Linked DNA regions of Homo sapiens: region 1 is linked to region 2. Evidence: fine-mapped expression QTL. A gene starts in region 2. The other region holds a variant in brackets. All regions are shown on one strand. Distances are between the middles of the regions. Region 1 holds the start of RBCK1 (RANBP2-type and C3HC4-type zinc finger containing 1). Region 2 holds the start of TRIB3 (tribbles pseudokinase 3).

What was found.
Region 1: its variant is fine-mapped to the expression of TRIB3 in whole blood (TOPMed, PIP above 0.99).

Annotation. Positions count from the first base shown.
Region 1 is chr20:404,654-413,934 of GRCh38, forward strand. RBCK1 (RANBP2-type and C3HC4-type zinc finger containing 1) reads left to right here and starts at 3,646. Exons shown (of 12, transcript NM_031229.4): 1 at 3,646-4,126; 2 at 5,228-5,372. The coding sequence starts at 4,105. RefSeq lists silencers at 1,364-1,520, 3,344-3,613 and enhancers at 3,591-4,233, 4,184-4,233, 4,234-4,874, 4,284-4,383, 4,444-4,543 and 1 more. The variant C/T (reference allele first, on the strand shown) is at 4,687.
Region 2 is chr20:375,511-385,098 of GRCh38, forward strand. TRIB3 (tribbles pseudokinase 3) reads left to right here and starts at 5,250. Exons shown (of 4, transcript NM_021158.5): 1 at 5,250-5,659. RefSeq lists silencers at 5,534-5,693, 5,714-5,823, 6,094-6,683 and an enhancer at 6,369-7,367.

The DNA of each region.
Region 1 (9,281 bases), 29 kb after region 2:
GGAGGGAGAGGTTGCAGTGAGCTGAGATCGCACCATCTCACTCCAGCCTGGGCAACAAGAGCGAAACTCTGTCTAAAAAAAAAAAAAGTTTACTGCGTTTAAATAAATAAATAACCTAGAAACATTGCCAAAGTATAGAAAATTATATCACATGACAACAAATTTTAAAATAACCTAACAGAACTTCTAAAATAAAATAATACAATAATCAAAATTTTTAGGCCAGGCACAGTGGCTCACACCTGTAATCCCAGCACTTTGGGAAGCCGAAGTGGGTGGATCACTTGAGGTCAGGAGTTCGAGACCAGCCTGGCCAACATGGTGAAACCCTGTCTCTACTAAAAATACAAAAAATTAGCCAGGAGTGGTGGCAGACACCTGTAATCCCAGCTACTCAGGAGGCTGAGGCAGGAGAATCACCTGAACCCGGGAGGCAGAGGTTGCAGTGAGCTAAGATCGTGCCATTTGCACTCCAGCCTGGGCAACAAGAGTGAAACTCTGTCACACACACACACACACACACACACACACACAAATTAAATTTAAAAGATGGGCTAAACAGCAAACTAGATATGGCTAAAGAGGGAATTAGTGAGACAGAAATCAGACACCAATCACAGATTCAAGAAACTCCATAAATTTTACACATAGACACATCATAGTAAAAGTGCAAAAAGCCAAAGATTTTTTTTAAAAAACTCTTAAAAGCACTCAGAGGAAAAGAATCAGAGATTCTAAAAACAAAAAACAAAACAAAACAAAAAAACCCCAAAACAACAACAACAAAAAACAAACAAAAAACCAGTACTACAACATGGATAAACCTCAAAAACGTTATGTCAAGAAAAACCCCAAAGTTATGCCAAGTGAAAGAAGCCAGTCACAAAGGTTCACATATTGTCAAAATCTAATTTTCTTTTTGAGACAGGGTCTCACTCTGTCACCCAGGCTGGAGTGCAGTGGGACGATCACTGCTCTACAGGTGCACGCCATCACACTCGGCTAATTTTTGTATTTTTTGTAGAGATGGGGTTTCACCATGTTGCCCAGGCTGGTCTTGAATTCCTGGGCTCAAGCGATCCACCTGGCTTGGCCTCCCCAAGTGCTGGGATTACTGGCATGAGCCACTGTGGCCCATCAGTAAGATCTAATTTCTATAAAATATCAAGAAGAGGAAAGTCTATAGAGACATAAAGTATATTAGTGCTGTCAGTTGGAGGATGGGAAACAGGGAATGTCTGCTAATGAGTACAGGTCTATTTTGGGGTGATAAGAATGTTCTTTCTTTCTTTTTTTTTTTTTGGTCTGAGACAGAGTCTCGCTCTATCACGCAGGCTGGAGTACAACGGTGCGATCTCAGCTCACTGCAACCTCTGCCTCCCAGGTTCAAGCCATTCTCATGCCTCAGGCTCTGCAGTAGCTAGGATTACAGATGTCCGCCACCACACCTGGCTAATTTTTGTATTTTTAGTAGAGACAGGGTTTCACCATGTTGGCCAGGCTGGTCTCGAACTCCTGACCTCAAGTGATCCGCCCACCTCGGCCTCTCAAAGTGCTGGGATTGTAGGTGTGAGCCACCATGCTCAGCCAAAAATGTCCTAAAATTTGATTGTGATGATGGGTGTACAATTCTGTAAATGTTACTAAAAACTATTGAATTGTATATTTTAGGTGGGTGGATTTTATGGCATATAAATTATATCTCAATAAAGCTGTTTATAAAAAGAACAGCAGTTAGATTGACAGGTGATGATATCTCAATAAAGCTGTTTATAAAAAGAACAGCAGTTAGATTGACAGGTGATGATATCTCAACAGCAACCATTTCCCAGCATTTTGGGAGGCCGAGGTGGGCAGATCATTTGAGCCCAGGAGTTCAAGACCAGCCTGGGCAACATGACCAAACCCTGTCTCTACAAAAATTAGCCAGCTGTGGTGGCACGTGCCCGTGGTTTGCAGCTACTCGGGAAGCTGAGCCCAGGAGTTGGAGGCTGTAGTGAGCCATGATCACGCCACTGCACTCCAGCCTGGGCAACAAGAGTGAAACTCCATCTCAAAAAAAAAAAAAAAAAAAAAAAAGGCTTCCCCAGGCCATTCAAATGTACAGCCAAAGTTAAGAAACATTGTCTAAAGGGATGTGTTTCCGGCAAAAGAAAAATTATCCCAGATGAAGGTCTGAGGTTCATTCCTTCATTCAACATATGGAGCCTCCATTATGTGTTTGGAACTGTTCTAGACACCAGGAACACAGCAGTGAGCAAAACAAACCAAAGTCCCTGCCCTCTAGGAGAGGAAAACAGACCCAGAATAACATAAATAAGTAAAACATGCTCCGTTAGACAGTAATAGATGCTGAGAAGAAAAAATGAAGCCAGGAAAGCGGATGTGAAATGCTGGATACGTGTGTCTGTGAAATTTCAGATGGAGTAACTAGGGAAGATTTTTGGGTAAAGACCAAAATAAAGGGAAGGAGGGAGCCATGCAGACGTTTGGGTTATGGCAGGTGCAAAGGCCTTAGGGCGGGAGTGTGTCTGACTTACTCCAGGACCCAGCAGGTCAATGGGACTTGAGTGGAATGAGGCAGGGGCAGGGCAGTCAGCTACGAAGACAGAGATCGGGAGGCAATTTGCGAGCCCTGGGACAGATCTCGGATTTTGCTTTAAGTGAGATGGGAGTACTTGGGTCGGGGAGTGGCATGGGTTTGATTTACATTTTAACAGGACTCTCCGGCAGCTAGGTGGAAATGGACGGTAGGGGGCAAAAAGAGAAGCAAGGAGGCCCAGGAGGAGGCTGGTTCAAGACCCCTGAGATGATGGAGCACTGATGGAGCTGGAGCGGGATGGGGCCGGAGGAGGTGAGGGATGAGATTCTGCAAGTGGAGCCCGCAGGATCTGCTGATCGATGGGACGAGGAACGGGAGAAAAATTAAAGCGGCGCATGAGGCAGACGAATGCAAACTTCACCAATAGCTCAACGAAAAGACAGACGGTGACCGCTGAGAGGCAGCGTCGGATCTGGGTAAGGGCGGGTTCCTGAGCCTGCCAGGCCTGGATTCAAACCTCGGCTGAGTGGCCTTGGACAGGTCATCAACAAACAGAGCCTTCGTTTATTCATGTGCAAACGGGGCCAAGGACCGGGCCTGCCCCGAGGTATGCCTGAGGCTTGGGTGAGCAGGCGCCGGGCTCGCAGGGCGCGCTCCTAACCCGTCCCCAGCGGCTCGACGCTGTGGATCCCGCCGCCCTCCAGCCCCGGCTCCGGCGCCGACTCCTGCTCAGGCTCCTGCTCCTGCCCCCGGCCCCGCCCCCGGCCCCGGCCCCGGCCCCCGGCCCACCCCGGCCCCGCCCCCAGCCCCCGGCCCCCCCGGCCCCGCCCCCGGCCCCGCCCCGGCCCCGCCCACCCCGCCTGCGGCCCAGCTCCTTCCCGCGGCTCTGCGATGCGGCCCGCAGGGTGACCCGGGCGGGAGTCCGGGGACCCGCGATCAGCCCCGGAGGACGGGGTGGGGTCGCCCCAAACAGGAGCGCCGGGACCGCTGGGACCCCGCACTCGGCGTCCGCCGCCGCCGGGTAGCCGGGCAGTGGAGGTCCCGGATGAGGCGACAATTTTTCCGGCCCCCCCTCCCAGTCCCGCCCCACTTCCGGGGCCGCCACTTTCACTTTCTCTTCCGCCGAAGCCGCTCCCCTTGCGAAGAACTGGGGCCTCCCGGGAGGAGAGAGGGCTTTGCCTTGAAACCCGGGACGCCAGGGGCGCTCCCGCAAGTGGGGGTCCTCCGGGACTTGGAACGCCCCGGCTGGGTGGTGTCCGGGCGTCCTTTCCCCGCTTCTTCCCACCTCGGCTGGTCCCGTTTCCTCCTGCGCCCAGTGCGGACCTGTCTCGGCGCCCGCTGCCCTCTCACCGCCCCACGCAGGATCCCGGCCTGGTCACCGGGCAGTGTGATGCTTCCCGACTGCCGCGGGGACAGCGAGGCACACACAGGGCTTGGGCCGCGCCGGAGGCCACACGGCCTGGCTGAGTTGCTCCTGGTCTCCCGCCTCTCCCAGGCGACCCGGAGGTAGCATTTCCCAGGAGGCACGGTCCCCCCCAGGGGGATGGGCACAGCCACGCCAGATGGACGAGAAGACCAAGAAAGGTGGGCACAGGCTGGAGGTGGCTGGGGAACTTCCGGTGGGAAGTGGGCCCCGCAGGACCTGGCCTTGCCCCTGGCCAGAAGGGCCTTGGAGAGGGGGCTTTAGCCTGCCCTCCCTCTACCCTCCTCCCCATCAGTTTCCTCCTTTGGTACCTGCTGGCTTCCAGAGCCATCTTGGGGCCCTGAGAACTCCTTGGGCTGGCTCTGTGCTGAGATGGGGCTAGGGGACTCGCAGAGGACACAGGGCATTGAACTTGGAGACCTCCTGGGCTGGTGGGAGACAGACGTCAGTTGACCTGAGAAGCAGGGGTACTTGCCTCTTCTCTTGTCCCCTGCACCTAGGGTTGTAGAACGGAAGTCAGTCACTGCCTTGCTGGAAACCCTCCCATGCCCCTCTGTGTTCTCCAAACAAAACCCAGAGGCCCTGGGTGGCCCACAGGATATCTGTCCTCAGTCACCCCGCCATGCTCACTCTACTGGAGCCCCACTGGCTTCCTTCGGTTCTCATCCAACCATTTTTTGGCCAAGGCCCTTACTCTTCCTTCCACCTGGACCACTCTTCC[C/T]CACTGGAGCTTGACACGTGCAGCTTCTCCTCCTTCAGGTCTTAGCTTCAGTGTTACCCCCTCCCAGAGGCCTCCCCTGGTCTCCTTAACCTGTTTATTTCCCTGCCAGCAAGGATCGCAATCTGACTTTTTTTTTTTTTCTTGTTAAACTTGTTCATTGTCTCCCCACTGGGCAGGGAGATCCATAAGGAGAGGGGCCCTGTTTATAAATCTCTGTGGGATTCCAGTTCCTGGGACAGTGGGTGGCACACAGTAGAAGCTCAATAACTGCTTGTTGGATAAATGAATAGAAATATGAGGGACCCTGGGAATGGGAAGGACAAACAACCAAATGAGCCTAGTGTGAGGAGGAGTGGGGAATATTAGAGAACCCCTCCCGGAGAAAGGGACTTTTAGTCTGGGTGCTGAAGGATACGTAGGAGTTCACCAGGAAGACAGAGAAAGCAGCACACACAAAGGATCGCCTCCTTTCCTACCCCATTACTCTCAGCTCCTGAAAATAAACCCTGTGCTAACTGGCTCCTGCTGTACTGGCTTTCAGCAGAGGAAATGGCCCTGAGCCTCACCCGAGCAGTGGCGGGCGGGGATGAACAGGTGGCAATGAAGTGTGCCATCTGGCTGGCAGAGCAACGGGTGCCCCTGAGTGTGCAACTGAAGCCTGAGGTCTCCCCAACGCAGGACATCAGGTGAGGAGTGCATGGCTGGCCTGAACCCAAGGGACAGCAGGACAGGATATTCTTGCCTGTAGAACAGTTCTTCCTAATGGCACGTTCTGGCTTCAGGAGGCCTGGCTTCTAACCCTAGTTATGTCATTAATCAACTGTGAAATACAGAGCAGGTCACTTCACCTCTCAGTGTGTCCTCATTTTAAAAATCAGACCGTAACAGTAGCTATCTCATAGGGTTGTTAGGAGGTGTACTGTATTAGGATGTTAGGCCTTATACAACAGAAGAAAACGGAACAGTGACGTAAACAAATTTGATGGCAGGGAGTCCAGATAGGGAGGTTCTGCTCCCGACAGTCCTCAGAGGCTCATATTGTTTCTCTCACCATTCTGCCATTCATTCCCAGATTCCTCATGGTGCAAAATGGCCATTCCAGCTCCATCCAGCCATCACATCACAGGAGGAAGGGAAGAAAGACACCCCTCCACACTCTTCTAAAGAGCATAGCTCAAAAATTGTACACACTTCTTCCGTTAATTCCTGTGGACCAGAACTGATTCCCACAGCTACAGTTCAGCTTGAGGGGAGACTGTATAGCCAAGATATTCAGCTAGAATTCAGGGGTTCGCTTGGTAAGGGAAGGGAAGAGAATGGATACTGTCGGTCTGTGCTCCAGGAGACTTAAACTCAATGCTGAAACACTTTGCACAATGCCTGGCGTGTTATGCACTCAATAATAAACATTAGTGTCTATCGTTATTTTTTGACTGCTTTTTCATTACTGGATAGTAAGGCAATAGTTTTATGGTTTCTGATTTTTGGTTCTCTTGGTGGGTCCCATTTGGTTTTTCTTAAAACAGTTTTATTTATTTATTTATCCTTACAGTTCGACCATTTAAAGTATACAGTTCAATGGCTTTTAGTATATTCAAGGTTGTGCAACCATTGCCACAATCAATTTTAGAACATTTTCATCATCCTGTAAAGAAACCTGGTACTCATTAGCAGCCAGTCCTCATCTCTCTACCTTTTCCCTAACTCCCCAACCTTAGGCAACCACTAATCTACTTTTTATCTCTAGGGATCTACCTTCTGGAAATTCCATATAAGTTGAATCATGCAATATGTGGCCTTTTGTATCTGGCTTCTTTCACTTAGGATCGTTTTCGAGATTCATCCATGTTGTAGCATGTCTAACAACTTCATTCCCCTTTTTTTTTTTGACATGGGGTCTCTTGTCTAGGTTGAAGTGCAGTGGTGCCATCATCGCTCACTACAGCCTCAACTTCCTGGATTCAAGCAGTCCTCCTGCCTTGGCCTCCCAGGTAGCTGGGACTACTGGCATGTACCACCACACCCGGCTAATTTTTTTTTTCTTTGAGATGGGAGTCTCACTCTGTCCCCCAGGCTGGAGTGCAGTGGCGCGATCTCAGCTCACTGCAAGCTCCACCTCCCAGGTTCACGCCATTCTCCTGCCTCAGCTTCCCGAGTAGCTGGGACTACAGGCGCCCGCCACCACGCCCAGCTAATTTTTTGTATTTTTAGTAGAGACGGGGTTTCGCCGTGTTAACCAGGATGGTCTCCATCTCCTGACCTCGTGATCCGCCCGCCTATGCCTCCCAATGTGCTGGGACTACAGGCGTGAGCCACCACACCCAGCCACACCTGGCTAATTTTTAGAAAGTCTGTAGAGATAAGGTCTTGCTTTGTTGTCTGGGCTGGTCTTGAACTTCTGGCTTAAGCAGTCTTCCCACCTCAGCCTCTCAAAGTGCTGGGATTACAGGTGTGAGCCACCATGCCCAACCAGAACTTTATTCCTTTTTATTGCCAAATAATAATCTATTGTATAGACATATCTCATTATCTTTACTCATTAAATCAGTTGATGGACATTTGGGTGTTTCTATTTTTTGGCTATTATAAACAATGCTGCCGTGAACATTTGTGTCCAACTTTTTGTGTGGACACGTTTTCATTTCTCTTGGATACACACTAGCAGTGGAATTGCTGGGTCATACAGTAACTCTATGTTACTTTTTGAAGAAATGCCAGACAGTTTTCCAAAGTGGCTGCACCATTTTACATTCCCACCAGCATATATGAGGGTTCTAGTTTCTCCACATCATCTCTAATACTTGTTGTTGTTTATCTTTTTGATTATAGCCATCCTAGTAAGTTTGAAGAGGTATCTCACTGTGGTTTTGATTTGCAATTTCCTAACCATTTGATGACAAATGATGTTAAGCATCTTTTCATGCACATATTTTCTTTGGAGGTTTGCCTATTCAGGTCTTTTGCCCATTTTAAAATTGGGTTTATCTTTTTTTTTTTTTGAGATGGAGTCTCGCTCTGTCACCCAAGCAGGAGTGCAATGGTGCAATCTCGGCTCACTGCAACCTCCGCCTCCCAGGTTCAAGTGATTCTCCTGCCCCAGCCTCCTGAGTAGCTGGATTACAGGTGCCCACCACTACACTGGCTAATTTTTGTATTTTTAGTAGAGACGGGTCTTACCATGTTGGCCAGGCTGGTCTTGAACTCCTGACCTCAGGTGATCCACCCACCTTGGCCTTTCCAAAGTGTTGGGATTACAGGCATGAGCCACTGCACCCGGCTGGGTTTATGTTTTTATATTGAGTTGTAGGAGTACTTTATTCATTTTAGCTAGAAGTACTTTATTCATTTTAGCTTATCAGCTACATGATTTGCAAAAATTTTCTCTCATTCTGTGGATTGTCTTCTCACTTTGTTGATGGTATCCTTTGAACCACAAAAGTTTTAAATTTTGATGATGTCCAGTTAGTCTATGTTTTATTTTGTTGTTTGTGCTTTTGGTGTCATATCTAAGAAATCGTTGCCTCATCCAAGGTCATGAAGATTTACCTCTATATTTTCTTCTAAAGATTTTATGGTTTTAGCTCTTACATTTAGGTCTTTGGTCCATTTTGATTTAATTTTTATATAAGGTGTGAGGTAAGGGTCCAGCTTCATTCTTTTGCACGTGGATATTGAGTTGTGCCGGCACTATTTGTTAAGGCTGTTTTCCTCTGTTTAATCATCTTAACCCTTTTTGGAAATTAATTGACCATAAATGTGAGTGCTTATTTCTGGACTCTCATTTCTATACCATTGAACTATAATATATATCTGCCCTTACGCCAGTACCACACTAATTACTATAGCTTCATAGTATTTGAAATCAGGAAATACAAGTTCTCCAACTTTTGTTCTTTTTCAATATTGTTTTGGTTATTGCAAGTCTCTTGAATTTCCATATAAATTTTACGATCAGCTTGTCTGTTTCTGCAAAAAAAAAACAACAACAACTGGGAATTTTGGTAGGGATTTCATTGAATCTGTAGATCATTGGCCACTTGATTTTAAACAAAATATTGAGATATCTACTTCTTGAAATGATTGCTTGAGACAGTACCTGTGTACTCCTTGCTATGAAAAATGAGGAAGTTAACATACTCATCTTCCACCTTTCCTTTTCCTTACTTTTTTTGTTGAAGTATCATTGTGGACACTTTCCCAGTTGACTTCCACTTGATCCCCTGAATTAACTAACTGGCACTGGCGTTTCCTTTGTAAAATGTACAATGTCAGCCACCATCTTGCTACTAAAGTGTGGCCTGTGGACCACAACATGGGGGGAATCTCAGGTCTCACCTCAGACTTGCTGGGTCAGAACCTGAGTTTTGAGAGGCTCTGGGCAACCGGCACCTCTCAGACCTGCTGTTGGGTTCTCATCGATGGACCCGATGCTTCCTAGCAAATGATACCTGTTGTATGTGTTATTGGTAATAACATAGTTTACTTAGCTATTACATTAATTAATAAAACATGAGCGCTGAAAGAGTTGTTTCTGTGAAAATAAGCTGATTGCTTTAAAAAGATAAGAGACAAATCACCAAAAAAAAAAAAAAAAA
Region 2 (9,588 bases):
AGCCAGACTTGGAACGCAACCAGAAGTTCTAAGGCATCATGTCACTTTTGTGGGGGAAATGTATGAAGATGAAAAGTTTCAAGGACACCTATGGTGGAATTTTAGGCATATGGCAATCACTAGGGACACCCATGTGGAAGGAAAGGAGGCAGGCATGGCTCATGTCATTGCTGTGGGCCCCACATCAGTGCTGGGGGTCAGAGACGGAACTCATCAGAACTATAGCAAAGAGGCCGGGCACAGTGGCTCACGCCTATAATCCCAGCAGTTTAGGAGGCCAAGGTGGGCGGATCATTTAAGGTCAGGAGTTCGAGACCAGCGTGGCCAACTTGGTGAAACCCCGTCTCTACTAAAAATACAAAAACATTAGCCAGGTGTGGTAGTCCACACCTGTAATGCCAGCTACTCAGGGAGCTGAGGCAGGAGAATTGCTTGAACCCGGGAGGCAGAGGTTGCAGTGAGCCAAGATCACATGCCACTTCCCTCCAGCCTGGGCAGCAGAGCGAGACACTGCCTCAAAAAAACAAACAAACAAACAAAAAACCAAACCTATAGGAAAGAGAAAAGCAGCCTTCTGGGCTCAGAAATCTGAGTAGAAAGATGTTCTGAGCCTGGAGAAAGAAATTCATAAAAGCCTGACTCTCTCTCCAGAAAAGAGTACATTTCTGCATTTAATTTTGGGAGGTTGGTCACCATTCTTTTCCTCGCTTCTAAATAAATGCTTATATAGCATTTATATTCCAGTCACTTTACAAATATTGTCATTTAATTCTCATGCAAACCAACGAGGTAGGAACTATTGTTATCCCCATTTTACAGATGGGGAAACTGAAGTACAAAGAGCTGAAGTAACTTTTCCAAAATAGATGTGGTTTTGAACCCAAGAAATGTGATACAACTATGACATGAGGCAGTCCCAATGCATTGAATCCTTATGACTGCAATGCAAGGGAGGTATAATTAACTGCATTTTATAGATGCAGAAACTGAGGCTTGAGGCTATTTGGTGTTTCTGGTGTAGATCTAGGAGCCAAACTCCAGCCTACCTAGACTCTTTGCCTCTGCTGTACCCCTGGACCATGTGTTAGGAATTCTTGGTACAGGGTGGTAGTGCTCAATATGGTAGTGGTTTTAGTCTGTTTTCTGTTGCTTATAACAGAATGTCTGAAACTGAACAATTTTGAAAGAAAAGGAATTTATTCCTTACAGCTATGGAGGATAGGAAGTCCAAGATTGAGGGGGCACTTCTGGTGAGGGCCTTATTCCTGGTCTCTGAAGTGTCTGGAGGTGGCACAGGGTATAGCGTGGAGAGGGGACTGGGCATGCTGACATGCTATGCTTTGGTCTCTCTTCCTCTTCTTATAAAGCCACCAGTTCTCCTCCTGTGAAAACCCACAAATCCATTAATCCATGAGTGGGTTAGTCCATTCATAAGGGCAGAGGCTTCATGATCCAATCACTTCTTAAAAGTCCCAACCGCTCAGTACTGCCACATTGGGGGATTAAGTTTCCAGCACATGACATTTGGGGGACACATTTAAACCATAGCAGTAGCCATTTGCCACATGTGGTTATTGAGCACTTCAAGTATGGCTAATGTGGCTAGTGTGACTGAGAATTTTTTATTTTATTGAATATTTTAATTTTTTTTTTTTTTTTTGAGATGGAGTCTCACTCTGTCGCCCAGGTCAGAGTGCAGTGTCATGATCTCGGCTCACTGCAACCTCCGCCTCCCGGGGTCAAGTGATTCTCCTGCCTCAACATCCCGAGTAGCTGGGATTACAGGTGTGTGCCACCATGCCCGGCAAATTTTTGTATTTTTAGTAGAGACAGGGTTTCACTGTGTTAGCCAGGACGATCTTGATCTTCTGACCTCATGATCCACCCACCTCCGCCTCCCAAAGTGCTGGGATTACAGGCATGAGCCACTGCGCCCAGCCTCACATTATATTTCTATTGGAACACAGAATGGTCTAGAGAATTGGGATTTGACAAACCCAGCTGTGACAAGTCACCAAAATTTGGGGGCCATACCCAGGGTGCCGTTCCTGTCACGATACCCATAGGTCCATGTGGAGGCTGCAGGGATACAAAGCTCGTGAAATATCCCAGGATGGCATGGGCACTGGAGTCAGCTGCCCCAAGTTCAAATCTGAAATCAGTCTTTTTGTTTTTTTTTTTTTTTTGAGATGCAGTTTCACTCTTGTTGCCCAAGCTGGAATGCAGTGGCGCAATTGGCTCACTGCAACCTCCGCCTCCTGGGTTCAAGCGATTCTCCTGTCTCAGCCTCCCGAGTAGCTGGGATTACAGGTACATGCCATCACGCCCGGCTAAATTTTTGTATTCTTAGCAGAAACCGGGTTTCACCACCTTAGCCAGGCTGGTCTCCATCTCCTGACTTCAGGTGATCCGCCTGCCTCAGCCTCCCAAAGTGTTGGGATTACAGGCGTGAGCCACCGCGCCCAGCCTGAAATCAGTCTTATACGACCAGCTGGGTGGTCTTGGGTAGGTCCCTTACCTTAACTCTTCTTGTCTGCAGAATGGAGGTGACTTACTGTTTTTCTCTGTCTCCCTTTCACATCTTTGCACTCTTCACCCCTTCTCTTCCCTCAGCTTTTAGTTTAAACATCACCTTTCTGATAAGCCCTGCTGAAAATGGCCACCCTCAGTCATGACGGAGAACAAGTCTTTCCTATTTTATTCAAGAAAATGCATGATGCAATCTATTTTAAATGATCATGGTTTTAATTTTATTTTCCTGATAATGGTCTATCTCTCCACTGATTTATAAGATTTGTAAGAGCAGGGGTGGATCATTCTGGTCACTGCTGAGTCCCCAGCATTTAGAACAGGGGCTGACACAGCACAAAACAACGTTAGTTGGGAATGTACAAGCAAACCCAGCACACCTTCAGAGGGGTGCTCAGGAAACAGCCCTCCCACCTTTCTTCACCCCTCACAGCTGTGGGATCTTCCTAACCATTTCGGTGTCCCAGGATAGAGGATGAGTTTATTCACCCCTCCCCAGCAGGGGAGTTGCCAGGATTAAATGAGATCCCAGAATGCCCTGGTATACCCTGAAGGCTCTGGGACACAGGTGAGCTGGTCCCCAGGGATTTGGAAACAGGAAAACAAATATGACTCCACCCTGCCTCCCATCCAGCCTCTGCCTAGAGGAGTTATTTTATTTTATTTTACTTTTTTTTTTTTTTTGAGACGGAGTCTTGCTCTGTCGCCCAGGCTGGAGTGCAATGGCGCAATCTCAGCTCATTGCAACTCCTGCCTCCTGGGTTCAAGCGATTCTCCTGCCTCAGCCTCCCGAGTAGCTGGGACTACAGGTGTGTTTTTTGTATTTTTAGTAATTTTTTGTACTTTTAGTAGAAACGGGTTTCACCGTGTTAGCCAGGATGGTCTTGATCTCCCGACCTCGTGATCCACCTGCCTCAGCCTCCCAAAGTGCTGGGATTACAGGCATAAGCCACCACGCCCAGCCTCTAGAGGAGTTATTTTACTTACTTACTTATTTATTTATTACACAGGATCTCACTCTGTCACCCAACCTGGAGTGCAGTGGCACAATCACGTTTCACTGTAACCTGAACTCCTGGGCTCAAGTGATCCTCCTACCTCAGCTTCCTAAGTAGCTGGGACCACAAGCTCGTACCACCATGCCCGCTATCTTTTTCTCTTTGTAAAGACAGGGTCTTACTATGTCATCCAGGCTGTTCTCAAACTCCTGGCCTCAAGCAATCCTCCCGTCTTGGCCTCCCAAAGTGCTAGGATTACAGACATGAGCCAGCTCACCCAGCTGAGGAGTTATTTTTTGACACTGGTGAATTCAGATCAAAAGGGATTTCTAAGAAAGGTGCTGGACCCAGGCCGGGCGCGGTGGCTCATGCCTGTAATCTCAGCACTTTGGGAGGCCGAGGCAGGTGGATTATCTGAGGTCAGGAGTTCGAGACCAGCCTGACCAACATGGAGAAACCCTGTCTCTACTAAAAATACAAAATTAGCCAGGCATAGTAGCGCATGCCTGTAATCCCAGCTACTTGGGAGGCTGAGGCAGGAGAATCGCTTGAACCCGGGAGGTGGAGGTTGCAGTGAGCCGAGATCGTGCCATCGCACTCAATCCTGGGCAACGAGTGAAACTCTGCCTCAAAAAAAGAAAAAAAAAGAAAGGTGCTGGACGCCTAGGACGCAGAGGGGTGTTTCACCCCAAATCAAGTAGCACCAAGCCCTCCCAGGCCTTGGGTGCAAGCATATTAAAGGCCTCTTTCCCTCTCTGTCTCCATTGTTTACACTCCACTGAGCATCCGCAATGTGCCACACACTGTTCTAAGCGTCTTACACATATTAAATTATTTAATCCTCACAACAACTTTATGAAGTGAGCGCAATTATGAGCCCATTTTATGGAGCAGGAAGTTGAGGCAGGGTTTTAGGTAGCTTTTCTGGGGTAGCACTGTGGGTTGGAGCGGAGGTGGAGTGCACTCTTAGGCCAGCTGGCTCTAGGGGCTCTTCACCACTAGGCCGCACTGCCTCTAGCAAAGGGACGCGGGGAAGCTCAGCAGACCTTAGGCCTCCCAAGGGCGCCACGGTGGTTCCTTTGAGCCCAGAGTCAGCTCTTAAGTCCATAGGCCTTCCTGAAGCTTCTGAACCACTTGCCCATAGCTGGGCCTCAGGCTGGCTCTCAGTAGAATGTGGAGAATGGAGATTCCCGCATGTCCACTTCTCCTAAAGGTTTTATAAGGCAGTGCTGGGAATGTGCTTTATAAAAAAGGGGAAGCACCCCGACAACAGTCACTGTTTGCTCTTTTAAGCACCATCCTGAGAAGGAGGAATGTTCTTCCCATTTCATAGGTGGGGAAACCGAGGCTCAGAAGAGCAAATTTTTGGCCGGGCGCGGTGGCTCACGCCTGTAATCCCAGCACTTTGGGAGGCCGAGGCGGGTGGATCACGAGGTCAGGAGATCGAGACCATCCTGGCTAACAAGGTGAAACCCCGTCTCTACTAAAAATACAAAAAATTAGCCGGGCGTGGTGCGGGCGCCTGTAGTCCCAGCTACTCGGGAGGCTGAGGCAGGAGAATGGCGTGAACCCGGGAGGCGGAGCTTGCAGTGAGCCGAGATCGCGCCACCGCCCTCCAGCCTGGGCGACAGAGCAAGACTCTGTCTCAAAAAAAAAAAAAAAAAGAGCAAATTTTTTTTCCAAGGTGATAGGGAGAGTCCGTGGCTGATGTCTGCACTGACCAGACGCCCCTAGGGGGCCAGCGAGGGCGGGTCCCAGGTGCAGCGGATGCAGAGGAGAGAGGCCCGGGCGCGGCGCGGGGGATGGTGCGATCCCGGGCCCGAGGGCATCAGACGGCGGCTGATTAGCTCCGGTTTGCATCACCCGGACCGGGGGATTAGCTCCGGTTTGCATCACCCGGACCGGGGGATTAGCTCCGGTTTGCATCACCCGGACCGGGGGCCGGGCGCGCACGAGACTCGCAGCGGAAGTGGAGGCGGCTCCGCGCGCGTCCGCTGCTAGGACCCGGGCAGGGCTGGAGCTGGGCTGGGATCCCGAGCTCGGCAGCAGCGCAGCGGGCCGGCCCACCTGCTGGTGCCCTGGAGGCTCTGAGCCCCGGCGGCGCCCGGGCCCACGCGGAACGACGGGGCGAGGTACTCGGCGGGGTGCGGCCTGCGGACTCGCCCGGAGGCCGGGGGGCGGGAGGGGGCGGCCGGGGAAGGGGGCGCCGGAAGCCTCTGGGCGTCTGCGTGTTGCCGCGTGTTACACGCACGCACGCCCCTTACACACCTTTTCACAGACCCCGCCGTCGGGGCGCGGCCAGGTCAGATCCCTTTTGATCCGGGCCTGGGCTGAGTGCTCCCCCCGGGCTTCAGGTGACGCGGCCCCGCGGAGCGTGGGGTCGCCCGAGTTGGGCTGGGGAAGCCAGGGACGGAGGTGTCCGGCCGTCACCCCTAGAGGAGGGCGTGCGGGGGTCTGTTTTGCGTGAGTGCGGGATAGGGGAGTCGTGTGGTGCGGTGAGGGGCTTGTGGGGGGCACTGGAGGACTCTGGGGGTGGCGGGGGATCCGAGGGGGTCCTCGTGAACCCGCAGGGGAGAGTCCTGGGTGAGGGTGGGTCCCGAGCACCTGTGTCTCAGGAGATGGTGAGAGCTGTCTGGAGGGCTGGGCACTTGGTGGCAGGGGTTGGCGGTGCAGGGGACACCGCCGGGACAGGGCTGGGGTGCCCTGGAGCGGGGGAGCCGAGGGAGTGGGAGCGGGGGCGCAGCGCGCGATCTCTGGCCCGGCAGGGCCGCTGGTTCTCCCCAGTGCGCGGCTCCGGGTTTGCAGGTGGACGGTGCGCGCGTGTCTGCGGTGTGTGCTGTGCCTGCAGACCGGGGAGGGCGGGGGACGACAGCCACCTCCTTCCCTCTGCCTCACCCCCCTCCTGTCCCAGGGCCGCGCTTCAATTTCCGCTGAAACTTCTGACTCGGACACCCGCCGCCTTTCGCTTGGGCTCCCACGGGAGGGGCCTGGCTGCGGGGGGCGGGGCGGGGTGGGGGTGCGGCCTTGCTCGGGTAGACCATGGGTGTGACAGCTGGGAGGGCTGTGTGTGTGTGTGTGTGTGTGTGTGTGCGTGCGCGCGCGCGCTTGCGCTTGATGTAACCCGCCCTCATTTCCCTGGGTCCCGAGTGTGGCAGGGAACAGCAAGAGGTAGATATTAGGGGCTGCTTTCATTCCACATCACAGATTCTATTCTGCAGTGTGGTCTGCAAAATGCCTTGCCCAAGATGTATAGACTCAGTTACCGCATCTGTCCCCATCTGGGTGGAGCTTATCCCAGGCCCCAACAGGCTCTGAGGGATGGCCGGGGCCAAGGCAGCCTGGACTACTGATGTGGCACAGGCCAGAGGGACTCCAGGCAGTCTCCTGCTGCACAGGGCACAAAGCATGTGCACAGCCAGGTATCATCCTGCGTGACTCAGAACAGCCTTGAGATGTAAGGAGTGTCATCCCAGCCTCGAACCTGGGGAGCTTTCTAAGACTCCCAAGGATGGTACTTATGCATCTTGCTGTGAAGAATAACAGGATGAGTGCTAATAATGACCATTTCCTGACACCTACCTGGCAACAGGTCCATAAGCTCTACATGCTTCATTTGTGTTTTCATTTCATCATCACGAAAAACCTGTAAGCTTTGCATCCTGTTCCCACTTTACAGGAACTGAGGCTCAGAAAGCTTGAGGAACTTGACCAGGGGTACCCCCCAGCTAGAAAGGGTTTGAGACAGGATTAGAACCCAGGAATATCTGACTACAGCCACTCCTTACTGCATTCTTACCAAGCCAAAGTCATGACCTTTCACTCATGTGGGGAGGCCTTCCCTTCCAAGGCAGCTCTTCCATTTGGGAGCAGCGTACTTGGAGAGGTGGGCCTCTGTCTGGTAACTGACTCATGTTGCCTTGTTAATCCTGCCTTGAACTGTTGGGAAGGTCTTTAACCAGGCTGAGGTCTCTCGCACCAATGCCCATACCTGGGCATGCACCTCCTTGGAATGGAGTTTAAGTGGGTGGGCAGATGGGTTCTAGAGAGAACCCGTCTGCCCTGACCATGCCCTACTGCCCTCTCCTTCAGCCACCACACACACAGTCACACAGCTGCGTGAATGGTGGCTTTCCTTTCACTTAACAGTTCACTCTGGAGATCCTTCCAATTACCCTATAAAGAGCATCCTCAACCTTTTAAATGGCTGCACATTGTTCCGTTGTGTGGATGAAGTATAATTTATGTAACCAGCCCTGTAATTATAGACAGCCAATTATTTCTGTCAAAAGGGCTGCAGGAATAACTGTGTATTTGCATGCTTACACACACACACCTCTACAGAATAAATTCTTAGCAATGGGATTAATTGCTGAATCAAAGCTCACACGCTTTTCATCGTTGTTTTTGTTTTGTTTTGTTTTGCTTTGTTTTGAGACAGTCTCACTTTGTTGCACAGGCTAGAGTTCCTGACCATGGCTCACTGAAGCCTTTACCTTCTGGGCTCAAGTGATTCCCCTACTTCAACCTCCTGCATGGCTGGGACTACAGCTGTGTGCCATCATGACCAGATAATTTTTTTTTTCTTAGGGACAGGGTCTCGCTACGTTGCCTAGGCTGGTCTTGAACTCCTGGGCTCAAGTGATCTTCCTGCTTCAGCCTCCCAAAGTACTGGGATTACAGGCATGAAGCACTGCACCCAGCCTGTTTTTCATTTTGATATTGTCAAAATGCACTCCTCAGAGGTGGTACCTTTTATCCTCCCACTAGCACTGTCTTCATTGTTAGTGGCTGCACTGCCACTATTCCACAGTATAAACCCACTTTTCATGACACTGCCAAGACATAAGGGTCTGAAATACTTAACAGTTTTCTTCCACAGTCCCCAAAATACAGGCTTCTCCCCCAGCTCAGGACATGAAGCCATCATCCCTCCTCATTGCAGGAGCCAAAGGCTGGACCTCACCTCGATTCCACCCTCTCCTTCACCCCTCACATCCAATCCATCCAGTCCATCCAGTCTGCCACTGAGTCCTCTTGATCTTCCTCCTATGAGCCCTTAACTTCGCGTCTCCATCTAGCACCCCCTAGTCCAGGTCACCTTCTCCTGCCTGGACTCGTGCTTGTGTGGGCCTCCTAGCTAGTCTCACTGCCCCGTCTTGTACTTTCAAATCCACCCTAAAAGCATGATGTTCCCCTGCTGAAATCCTTCAGTGGCTCCCCACTGCCTTTGGATAATTCCAAATCCTATTGTGTGTTAATTAGGATTAGGCTCAGCTGTAATATAGAAACAGCCACTTAATAGCTAAAATGAAATAGACGTTTTTTTCTTCTTTTTCTCTTTTTTTGAGACAGAGTCTTGCTCTGTCCCCAGGCTGGAGTGCAGTGGCGAGATCTCAGCTCACTACAACCTCTGCCTCCCAGGCTCAAGTGATTCTCCTGCCTCAGCCTCCCGAGTAGCTGGGACTACAGGCATGCACCACCATGCCCACCTAATTTTTGTATGTTTAGTAGAGATGGGGTTTCACCATGTTGGCCAAGATGGTCTCGATCTCCTGACCTTGTGATCTGCCTGCCTCGGCCTCCCAAAGTGCTGGGATTACAGGCATGAGCCACTGCGCCCAGCCTTCAATAGATGTTTATTTCTCTCCTGTGTAAAAAACCTGGAGGTCTGGCCTGACAACTCCATGTGTCAGGGACCTAGGCTCCTCTCTTGCTCTACTGTATGTGGTACTTCTGAAGCCAAGGTAGATGCTGGAGCTCCAGCAGTTAGGTCCACATTCCAGCATACAGGAAAGGAGGAAATGAGGAAGTTGGGCCCTCCCTTTAAGAACACTGTCCTGGGCATTGTACACAACACTTCCACTTGTGTCCTACTAGCCATATGCTGATACAAGGATACAAGGGAGACAGGAAATGCAGTTTATTCTAGGTGTCCTTGTGCTCAGCTGAAAATCTCAGGTTCTAATCCTATGTAAGGAGGGGAGACCTGAAACTGGGGACCACTAACCACCTCTGCCATATGATGCTCGTAGAGCCCTTCACAATAGGGCCTCTACTAACC